Linked DNA regions of Homo sapiens: region 1 is linked to region 2. The links come from fine-mapping of genetic effects on gene expression. A gene starts in region 2. The other region holds a variant in brackets. All regions are shown on one strand. Distances are from middle to middle. Region 1 has its middle 10 kb from the start of CD2BP2. Region 2 holds the start of MAPK3 (mitogen-activated protein kinase 3).

Region 1 (5,369 bases), 220 kb after region 2:
GCCATTCTCCTGCCTCAGCCTCCCGAATAGCTGGGATTACAGGCGCCCGCCACCACACCCAGCTGATTTTTACATTTTCAGTAAAGATGGGGTTTTGCCATGTTGGTCAGGCTGGTCTCAAACTCCTGACCTCAGGCGATCTGCCCACCTTGCTTCCGAAAGTGCTGGGATTACAGGCGTGAGCCACTGTTTCTGACCTCTGAACTGTTTTTGATTAATGGCTCTTAACTTTAAAAATGACAATCAAAGCAGTTTGAAATGAGCCTCGAGGAAGTGGGTAAAGGGGCTGCCACTCTGCTTAATTTTCTCCACACTGGGGTCTCATTTCCTCCTTGCCAGAGGGCTTGGAGAGTGAGACTTCCAAAGCAGCTCCAGTTTCCACAGGACCCACTAGGTGGGATACCTGTGAGTGGGAAGGGAGGTTTCAAGCCCTTCCCGAGAGACAAGAGCCCCACTGCACTCAGCCTGCCTTCCCCACAGGGCCCTCCTCCGCCCACCTGCCCTCCCCAAGGTCTCTCCAGACTTCCTGTGACCACTCTGTGACAAGGGCAACACAAAAGTCAAAAACCCATCAACACAGGCGGCACGGGCCGAGAGGGAGTTGCTTCTGGGTGGGAAAGAAAGTCCCCGAGTGGTGCGGAAAGGAGAGGAGCAGGCGAGTACCCTGTGGACGCGCGTCCAGCTGCGCAGGGGCCCCCACGCACCCGTTTCCCGTGGGTCTGTTTCCCATGAGCCAGTACCTGTGGGGTCTCGTGCGGCCAGGTTTCTGCCCTATCCGTCCAAGACACAGGATGAAGCTCATGCCTCACTCGGGGTCTCCTTCTCTCTCCCTGCAGTGCACCCACTCTGGACGGGCCCGGTCTCCGTGCCAGGGGGCACCCGGCAGTCTCCTATCAACATCCAGTGGAGGGACAGCGTCTATGACCCCTGGCTGAAGCCACTCAGGGTCTCCTATGACGTGGCATCCTGCCTGTACATCTGGAACACTGGCTACCTCTTCCAGGTGGAATTTGACGATGCCACCAAGGCATCAGGTGAGTGCCAGCTGGGGCTCGAGGACTTTCTCCTCTCCGCTCCCTGTTCTGGGAGCAGGGTCAGGGGCTTCGCGGAGAAGGCGGAGGAGAGCTGGAAGGTGCTGCTTTCCTTGTGCTGCTGGCGCGCCACTGCACTTCAGCCTGGGAGACAGAGCGAGACTCCGTCTCAAAAAAAAAAAAAAAAAAAAGAAGAAATAGAAAACTTGAATAGGCCGGGCACAGGGGCTCACACCTGTAATCCCGGCACTTTGTGGTTTTTTTTTTTTTCTCTCTCTCTTTTTGTTTTGTTTTGTTTGAGATGGAGTTTCGCTCTTGTTACCCAGGCTGAAGTACAATTGTGCAATCTCGGCTCACTGCAGCCTCTGCCTCCCAGGTTCAAGCGATTTTCTTGCCTCAGCCTCCCAAGTAGTGGGGATTGCAGGCGCCCACCGCCGCGCCTGGCTAATTTTTTGTATTTTTAGTAGAGACAGGGTTTCACCATGTTGGACAGGCTGGTCTTGAACTCCTGACCTCAGGTGAACCATCCACCTCGGCCTCCCAAAGTGCTAATCCCAGGAGGCCGAGGCAGGTGGATCACATGAGGCCAGCAGTAGTGCAAGACCAACCTGGAAAACAGGACAAGACCCCGTCTCTAGTAAAATTATAAAAATTAGCTGGGTGTGGTGATGTGCGCCTGTAGTCCCAGCTACTGGGTGTGGAGGCTGCAGTGAGCCAAGTTCACACCGGTGCACTCCAGCCTGGGCAACAGAGTGAAATTCTGTCTCAAAAAAAAAAAAAAAAAAGAGAAAAGAAAAGAAAACTTGAATAGCCTTAAATATAATTAATAAGGCTGGGTGCGGTGGCTCACACCTGTAATCCCAGCACTTTGGGAGGCCAAGGCGGGCAGATCACGAGGTCAGGAGTTTCAGACCAGCCTGACCAACATGATGAAACCCCATCTCTACTAAAAATACAAAAATTAGCCAGGCATGGTGTCCGGCACCTGTAATCCCAGCTACTCAGGAGGCTGAGGCGGGAGAATCCCTTGAATCTGGGAGGCGGAGGTTGCAGTAAGCCAAGATCGCCCATTGCACACCAGCCTGGGCAACAAGAGCAAAACTCTGTCTCAAAAAACAAAAAACAAACAAAACAAAACAAGACAAAACACTTTCCTACAAGATTAATTTGAGGTCGGTGCCTAAAGTAAAAGCTTTATCTTTGGAACTAGCACAGCTCTCTAGGCATCAAGAGCAAGGTTTTTCTTTTTCACTCCCAGAAGTGCTCTTTTTAATTTTTTTTTTTTTTTGAAACAGTCTCGCTCTGTTGCCCAGGCTGGAGTGCAGTGACCCAATCTCGACTC[A/G]CTGCAACCTCTGCCTCCCGGGTTCAAGTGATTCTCCTGTCTCAGCCTCCCCAGTAGCTGGGATTACAGGCATAAGCCACCATACCCAGCTAAGTTTTGTATTTTTAGTAAAGACAGGGTTTCACCATGTTGTTCAGGCTGGTCTCGAACTCCTGACCTCAGGTGATCTGCCCATCTAGGCCTCCCAAAGTGTTGGGATTACAGGCGTGAGCCACCGTGCTTGGCTCTTTTTTTAATTTTTAAAATGCATTTTATTTTGTTTTGTTTTATTTTATTTTATTTATTTAGAGACAAAGTCTTGGTCTGTCACCCAGAATGGAGTGCAGTGGCACAATCATAGCTCACTGCAGCCTCAAACTCCTAGGGTCAAGGGATCCTCCTGCCTCAGCCTCTGGAGTAGCTGGAACTACAGGCTCGAGCCACCATGCCTGGCTAATTTTTTAAATTTTCGTAGAGACAGGGTCTTGCTATGTTGCCTAGGCTGGTCTCCAACTCCTGGACTCAACTGAGCCTCCTGCCTCACCCTCCCAAAATGCTGGAATTACAGGCATGAGCCACTATACCTGGCTCAAAGATTTCTTAAATAGGACACAAAAAGCACAAATGATTTTTTAATCAACAAATTAAGCCAGGTGCGGCGACTCACGCCTGTAATCCCAGCACTTTGGGAGACTGAAGCGGGCCAATCACTTGAGGTCAGGAGTTCGAGACCAGCCTGGCCAACATGGTGGTCTACTAAAAATACAAAAATTAGCTGGGTGTGGCAGCCTGTAGTCCCAGCTACTCAGGAGGCTGAGGCACAAGAATTCCTTGAACCCAGATGGCAGAGGTTGCAGTGAGCCGAGATTGCGCCACTGCACTCCAGCCTAGACCACATAGTGGGACTCTGTCTCAAAAAAAAAAAAAAAAAAAAAAAAAAATGATCAGCCTGGCCAACATGGTGAAACCCCATCTCCCCCATCTCTACTAAAAATACAAAAATTAGCCAGGCATGGTGGTGTGCGCCTCTAACGCCAGCTACTTGGGAAGCTGAGGCAGGAGAATTGCTTGAACCCAGGAGGCGGAGGTTGCACTGAGGTGAGATTGCACCACTGCACCCCAGCCTAGGAGACAGAGCAAGATTCTGTCTCAAAGAAAAGTCAGCAAATTAAATTTTAACCAGATTTAAAACTTTTGTTCTTCAAGATGATGACAGAAAAAAAAAAAAAGACAAGTCATGGATCAAGAAAATATTCACAAAACAGAATCTGACAAAGGACTCATTATCTGGAATATCTAATGATCAAGGTCTCTTACAAGTCAATCAGAAGACAAACAATTCAGTTTTTAAAACAGGCAAAACATATGAGCAAACACTCGACCAAAAATTTTGACAGGACTTTAGAGTCCCACAGACCTCGGTTAAAATCCTGGCTTTACCACCCTCAGGCTATGTGATGTTGAATGTCACCTCTCTGAGCCTCATTTTTCTCATCAGCAAAGTGGGAGAGATACGTAACTAAATAGGTAGTCAAGGAGATTAAACATAATATTCTGAACTTATTTAGGTCCCTAATAAATGCCAGACACCCTCTTCTTCCCCTGTCAAATAGAGGATGTATATATGTATACATACAAATATATATATATATATACACTTTTTGTGTGTGTAGAGATGGAGTCTGGCTATATTGCCCAGCTGGTCTCAAACTCCTTGGCTCAAGCCATCTGCCCACCTCAGCTGAGATTACATGCCTGGCAGAGAACGGGCTTAGTGTGTAAGCCGGGGAAGGCTGGGCCAGGTAAGAGGTCTCAATGTCTGAGGCCAGAGGGCAAATGCCCACATTGTATCCAAAGGAATGTGAAGTGTTCAAGACAGAAAAATGTGTCCCAAAGAGTGCACTGGAGCTACAAGGTCTGAAGCCACCAAGAGCTGCAAGGCAGCTGTATGGGGAGGGAATAGGGATGGGTGGGGTATCAGGAAAGTAAGAGCAAGTACGATGGCATCAGAATGGAGAAACTGGGCTGGGCACGGCAGCTCATGCCTGTAATCCCAACACTTTGGGAGACCCAGGCAGGAGGATCATTTGAGGCCAGGAGTTTGAGATCAGCCTGGTCAACATAGTGAGACCCCACGTCTATAAAAAATAAAAATAAAGGGGCTGAAGTGGGAGGATCACTTGAGCTCAGGAGGTCCAGCCTGCAGTGAGCTATGATCGCACCACTGCACTCCAGCCTGGGCGACACAGCAAGACGCTGTCTCTAAAACTAAATGGCAGAGCGCGGTGGCTCACAACTGTAATCCCAGCACTTTGGGAGGCCAAGGCAGGTGGATCACTTGAGGTCAGGAGCTCAAGACCACCCTGGCCAACATGGCAAAACCCCATCTCTACTAAAACTACAAAAATCTGCTGGGCGTGGTGGCGGGCGCCTGTAATCCCAGTTACTCAGGAGGCTGAAGAAGGAGAATTGCTTGAACCCGGGAGGCGGAGGTTGCAGTGAGCCGAGATCACGCCACTGCACTCCAGCCTGGGCAACAAGAGCGAAACTCAGTCTCAATAAATAAATAAATAAATAAATAAATAAATAAATAAATACAAATAAATAAGAAGAGGGAAACCAGAGGCTGCCAGCGCCTGCTGCTGACTTTTACAGGCAGGTCATGTGCCACGTCTGCATGGGCAGCTGGGAAGCTGGCATCTTACATAAAGGGACAGAGAAGCCTCCTGGGGAACAGGGGCCTAGCGGGGACAGGATTGCAGCCACCTGCAGCGGCCAACTGGAGATGGCAGCGGTGGCCCACCGCAGGGGGTGTAGGTGGTCAGGGGCCACTGAACCCTCCCCTGTGGAGCATACCCCCGAGGGTGCCCGGCAGCTGGGGACTGGGCTCCACAGGGAGTTCAGAGTGGCTGCTGACTCCACGGAGCACTGTTGTTACTTGGGCCCCACACAAAACATCTACCTTGAAATCCATCCTTGGGAGAAACTCCTCTCAGGTCTTGGCATCAGGAGGAGCT
Region 2 (5,369 bases):
CCCAGCGAGACGCAGTGACTTGCTTCAGATCACACAGCGAGCTGGGGGTGAGCACGGAGATTTCCTGTCCACAGTTTGTGGTGGGGGTTGCAGACACCTCAGTACAAATCCCCACTCTTGGGTGGAGGGCTGGGACTGAGAGTGGGTGGGTGGGGCAGGGAAGAAGTGACAGGTGTCATAAGTTGCTAAGGAGAGCCAGACAGGAAGTGGACAGCAAACTAGGAAAGCAGTATTGGGGGAGGACAGCCAAGGCTAGGCTGTCCCTCCCTGGGCAAGGTGCAAGTCCACAGGTGATTAGGGTGTGGCTCTGAGTGAGAAGTCCTAAGAAGAAGGACAAGTTCCCATCTGGGGGAGGAGAGGAGGAGACAGCAACAGAAACACTTGATTTTAGGTTTTCTGAGCCTTAGCTTCCTCATCTTTTTTTTTTTTTTTTTTTTTGACAGGGTCACGCTCTGTCCCCCAGGCTAGAGTGCAGTAGCACAATCATAGCTCACTGCAGCCTCGAACTCCTAAGCTCAAGCCATCCTCCTGCCTCAGCCTCCCAAGTAGCTGGGACTATAGTCGTGTACCACCAAACCTGGATAATTTTTAAATTTTTTGTAGAGGTGGGGTCTCACTATGCTGCCCAGGCTGGTCTTGAACTCCTGGCCTCCAGTGATCCTCTGGTCTTAGCCTCCCAAAGTGTTGGGACTACAGATGTGAGCCATTGCACTCCACCCCTCATCTTTGAAATGAAGCTGAAAAGCCCATCTCATAGGGTAGTTGGGAGGTGTAATAGAAAAAAAAAAGCATTGGGCATGTATAGTACCTGACACACAGCAGGCCCTCAAGAAAGGCAGTTTTTTGTTTTTGTTTAGTTTTGAGACAGAGTCTCGCTCTGTCACCCAGGCTGGAGTGCAGTGGCACGATCTTGGCTCACTGCAACCTCCAGCTCCTGGGTTCAAGCGATTCTCCTACCTCTGCCTCCCAAGTAGCTGGGATTACAGGCTTGCACCACCATGCCCCGCTAATTTTTTTGTATTTTTAGTAGAGATGGGGTTTAACCATGTTGGCCAGGCTGGTCTCCAACTACTGACCTCAGGTAATCTCCCACCTCAGCCTCCCAAAGTGCTGGGATTACAGGCGTGAGCCACCACGCCCAGCTGACAGTTTTCTTTCTCCCTGTCTCCCTTCCGGTCTGGGCAAGGAGGAAAGAGAGGAAAGAATCATCCATTCCTTAGCAAGAAGTGACTGTGGGCAGAGGCCAGGTCATGTCTCAGAACTGCCGACGTCAGAAGACACCACTCCCATAGAGACCATCCTGCCTAGCCCTTCCCCCTGGGGCACAGAGCAGAGAACCCACTTGCTCGAGGCCATACTGCCTGGGCCGCTGCAGGCCTGGGTTCATCAGAGGTCTCCAAGTCCTGTTACACTGTGGCTTCCCCTCTGCAGGAAAGTTTATTTTACTGGGTTTGTTTTGGAGGGTGGTGGGTAAGATGGAAACAGAAACCAAGCAACGGGTCCCCAGCCCAGCTGCGAGGCCGTGCCTGACCAGCCGACTGGCCAAGGTGAAGGATACACATCTCTCATGGCTTCCAGGGTGGACGCCCGCAGAATGTCTCGGATGCCGATGACATTCTCATGGCGGAAGCGCAGCAGGATCTGGATCTCCCGGAGCGTGCGCTGGCAGTAGGTCTGATGTTCGAAGGGGCTGATCTTCTTGATGGCCACGCGAGTCTTGCGCACGTGGTCATAGGCCGAGCTGAGGGGACCGGAGAGAGGCTGCTGCTGTGGCCTTACAAAGGGGGAGTCCGGGCCTGGTGGCCCCACCCAGGCCTTGGCAGGGAGGGGAGAGAGCAGGAGCTGGCTCTGGTCAAATCATAAACAATGCTGGTTCCTTCCTGCTGTGGAGGCCTGGGATCTCCAGAGAGAAAGCTGGGGACCAGCCAGGCGGCCCTTCGGTGACTTTACAAACAGAGGAAGAGACTGACCGCTCACTGACTTCCCCTCTCCTCAATCCCCTTCCATTCTACTGGCCCTGAACCCTTCGCCCCCATTCCCAGGAAAGGCTCCTTAACCCAAGACAGGTCCGGGGGTGCAGATGCTGGGGACACACCATGGGGCAAATACTGGGAAGGTGGCAGCCAGGGGAGGGGCAGGAGAGAATGGACAGGGCAGGGGAGGGTCCCAGGGTGAGGGATCCGGGCAGCGGGGCTGTCCCAGAGGGATAGAGGCCCAGAGCACACGGTGGGGCCGGGGGCACTCACAGACCCCTCCCAAAACATGCAGGTGGCACTCCTGGCCGCCTCATCTCTCTCTGGGCCCCTGGGGTGGTGGGGCCAAAGCCCTGCCCCACCCTGATCTCGGCTCTTCTCCCCCAGGCTCCCTGGCACTGCCTCACAGGGGGAATCCAAGACACCCTTTCCCCCAAAACGGGCCCTCCACTGCCTCTTCACTAAGGATGTCGCCTCCCCGAGAGTACTCATCCTCTGGGCCTCGCCCCGTGTCACTAGGGTCCCCGCGGGCCCCCACATGCACTCGGATGCCCCTCCCATCATTACAGAAGGGTGGACTCAAAGCCTCCAAGCCTGCTCCCCTGAGGACGTAGGCAGCGCCCCCTCCCCCAGAAAGCACTCAGGGGCCCCCTCCCTGGGACGCTCCCGATCATCCCGAGTCTCCTGCCTCCTCGGGACGCTCCGCGTCTCCACGTCCCGGAAAGCGCTCGGCGCCTCCTCCTCCTCTCCCGCGAAGCCCCCTCCCCTGAGGGCACCCCCTCCCCCGGAACGCCCCCTCACCTGACCATGCCGTACGCGCCCTCGCCGATGTACTGCAACTGCGTGTAGCGCGGGCCCACGTCGAACGGCTGCCCCTTCACCATCTCCACCTCCCCCGGGACCCCCGGGCCGACCCCCTCGGTTCTACGGGGCTCCCCGCCCCCGCCCCCCTGAGCCGCCGCCGCCGCCATCTCCACTCCTCCCCTCCCACCGCCCTCCTCCCCACGGCGGCCCCGCCCGAGGCCCCGCCCCTTCCCGCCTGCCTGTCACCCGCAGGGCCGCGCGCGCCAGGCCCCGCCCTTGCCCCGGCCCCGCGTGGGCCTGGAGCTGTCACGTGACCCGCCCCGCGCGCGCCCGCCCTTCTTGCCCCAGGTTCGGGGGCCATGGGTCCCTGCGGGCTCCGCGGCCTCCAGGTCACCGGGAGGTTCGGCAGCGCCGCCTCGGAGACTGTCCTCACCCTCCCCTCGATGGCGAAGCGGCCAGGGCGTGACCTACCAGAGCCACCCAGCCAATGTATGCGGCAGCCCACCAGAACCTGGGCCCGGGATCACCCTAGGTTAAAAATAATGTTCTAATAAATGGATCAAATTTTACAGATGGAGAATCTGAGAGTTAGGTTTACTAACTTGGGTAAGGTCACTAGTAGTGACAGCTGAGACTCAAAATGGTGTCTTCTGACACAGAGACTCTTTCTAATTCCATGCCTCTCAGAGTCCTAGACTGTTTTTATTTTATTATAGAGACAGGGTCTCTCTCTGTCGTCCAGGCTGGAGTGTAGTGGTGCAATAATTGCTCACTGCAGCCTCAACCTCCCTGGGGTCAAGTGATCCTCCCACCTCAGCCTCCCAAAGAGCTGGGACTACGAGTGCGCGCCACCACGCCCTGCTAATTAAAAAAAAAAATTGGGGGGCTGGGCACGGTGGCTCACGCCTGTAATCCCAGCACTTTGGGAGGCCGAGGTGGGCAGATCACCTGAGTTTGAGACCAGCCTGACCAACATGGTGAAACCCCGTCTCTACTAAAAATACAAAAATTAGCTGGGCATGGTGGCACGTGCCTGTAATCCAAGCTACTTGGGAGACTGAGGCAGGAGAATCGCTTGAACCCGAGAGGAGGAGGTTGCAGTGAGCTGAGATTGCACCACTTCACTCCAGCCTGGGCGACAGAGCAACACTCCGTCTCAAAAACAAAAAACAAAAAGAAGAAGAGAAAAAGTAGGGTTGCAGAAGGTAGGGACTGAAGAAAGGCATGAAGGAGAAGGATCGGGGTGAGCTGAGGCATAAAGGCAGAAGCATAACTTGTCCAGCATGGCTGCAGTAAAAAAATGATGAGGTTTCAGCCTGGAGAGGTAGGTTGGGGCCAGATTAGGAAGGCTCTGGATTCTGGCAAGGAGTTTGGATGTTACTCAGTAAGCAGTAAAAACCCTAGAGGGACTTTTGCCAGATCATTTTGCAACTGCGGGAGAATATAGTGACTCAGAGAAAACACTATGGAGTTCAGCATGGAGCCAGGTTTGCTGAGTGGGAGTGAGTTTCCCAGCATAGGAAAGGCTGGTGTATCAGAGCTGCAAGCTGCCACCTCCTGCTGCTGGAAGCTCAGTTAGAGTGTGACTGAGATTCCCCTCTAGTGACTGAGGTTGGCATTTCCTTGGAGGACTGGACTGGGATTTGTTCTGGTTCATAGACGCATATTCAACTAATGTAGACTTACCATCTCTTCTGTGCCAGGCACTTTTGGTTTTTTTTTGTTTGTTTGTTTGTTTGTTTTTTTGAGACGGAGTCTTGCTCTATCACCCAGGCAGGAGTGCAAGCTCACTGCAACCCCTACCTCCTGGGTTCAAGTCATTCTCCCACCTCAGCCTCCCAAGTAGCTAGGATTACAGGCGCCAGCCACCACGCCCGGCTAATTTTTGTATTTTTAGTAGAGACGAGGTTTCACCATGTTGGCCAGGCTGGTCTCAAACTCTTGACCTCAGGTGATCCACCCACATTGGCCTCCCAGAGTGCTGAGATTACGGCACCTGGCTTGCCAGGCACTTTTATGTACACTACCTCCTGTAATCCTCACAGCAGCCATATGAAGTAGATACTATTAACATTTAACTGGAAAATGATGCTGGCTGGTCGTGGTGGCTCACCTCTGTGATTCCAGCACTTTGGGAGGCTGAGGCAGGCTGATTGCTTGACCCCAGCAGCTGGAGACCAGCCTGGGCAACATAGTGAGATCCCATCTCTACCAAAAATACAAAAATGAGCTGGGTGTGGTGGCATGCGTCCGTAATCCCAGCTACTTGGGAGGCTGAGGCAGGAGGATCAGTTGAGCCCAGGATGTTGAGGTTGCAGTGAGCTCTGATGGTGCCACTGCACTCCAGCCTGGGTGACAGAGTGAGAGACCCTGCCCCCACCCCCACCCCCCCAAAAAAAGGGACAGAGGGAAAACGATGTGGAAGCTTACGCTCTGTCACCCAGGCTGGAGTGCAGTGGCGCGATCTCAGCTCACTGCAAGCTCCGCCTCCCAGGTTCACGCCATTCTCCTGCCTCAGCCTCCTGAGTAGCTGGGACTGCAGACACCCGCCACCATGCCTGGCTAATTTTTTGTATTTTTAGTAGAGACGGG

What was found. PIP is the estimated chance that this variant, and not a neighbour inherited with it, causes the effect. A credible set is the group of variants that fine-mapping cannot tell apart.
Region 1: its variant is the best candidate, but not a certain one, in a credible set for the expression of MAPK3 in whole blood (INTERVAL, PIP 0.80).

The regions. Positions count from the first base shown.
Region 1 is chr16:30,342,303-30,347,671 of GRCh38, forward strand. It overlaps the pseudogene LOC100421031. Among named protein-coding and RNA genes, the nearest start is that of CD2BP2, 10 kb to the right of the region's middle. RefSeq lists an enhancer at 360-861. The variant A/G (reference allele first, on the strand shown) is at 2,374.
Region 2 is chr16:30,120,266-30,125,634 of GRCh38, forward strand. It overlaps MAPK3 (mitogen-activated protein kinase 3), which reads right to left and starts at 2,955. Exons shown (of 9, transcript NM_002746.3): 1 at 2,775-2,955; 2 at 1,559-1,741. The coding sequence starts at 2,944. RefSeq lists a silencer at 2,947-3,316.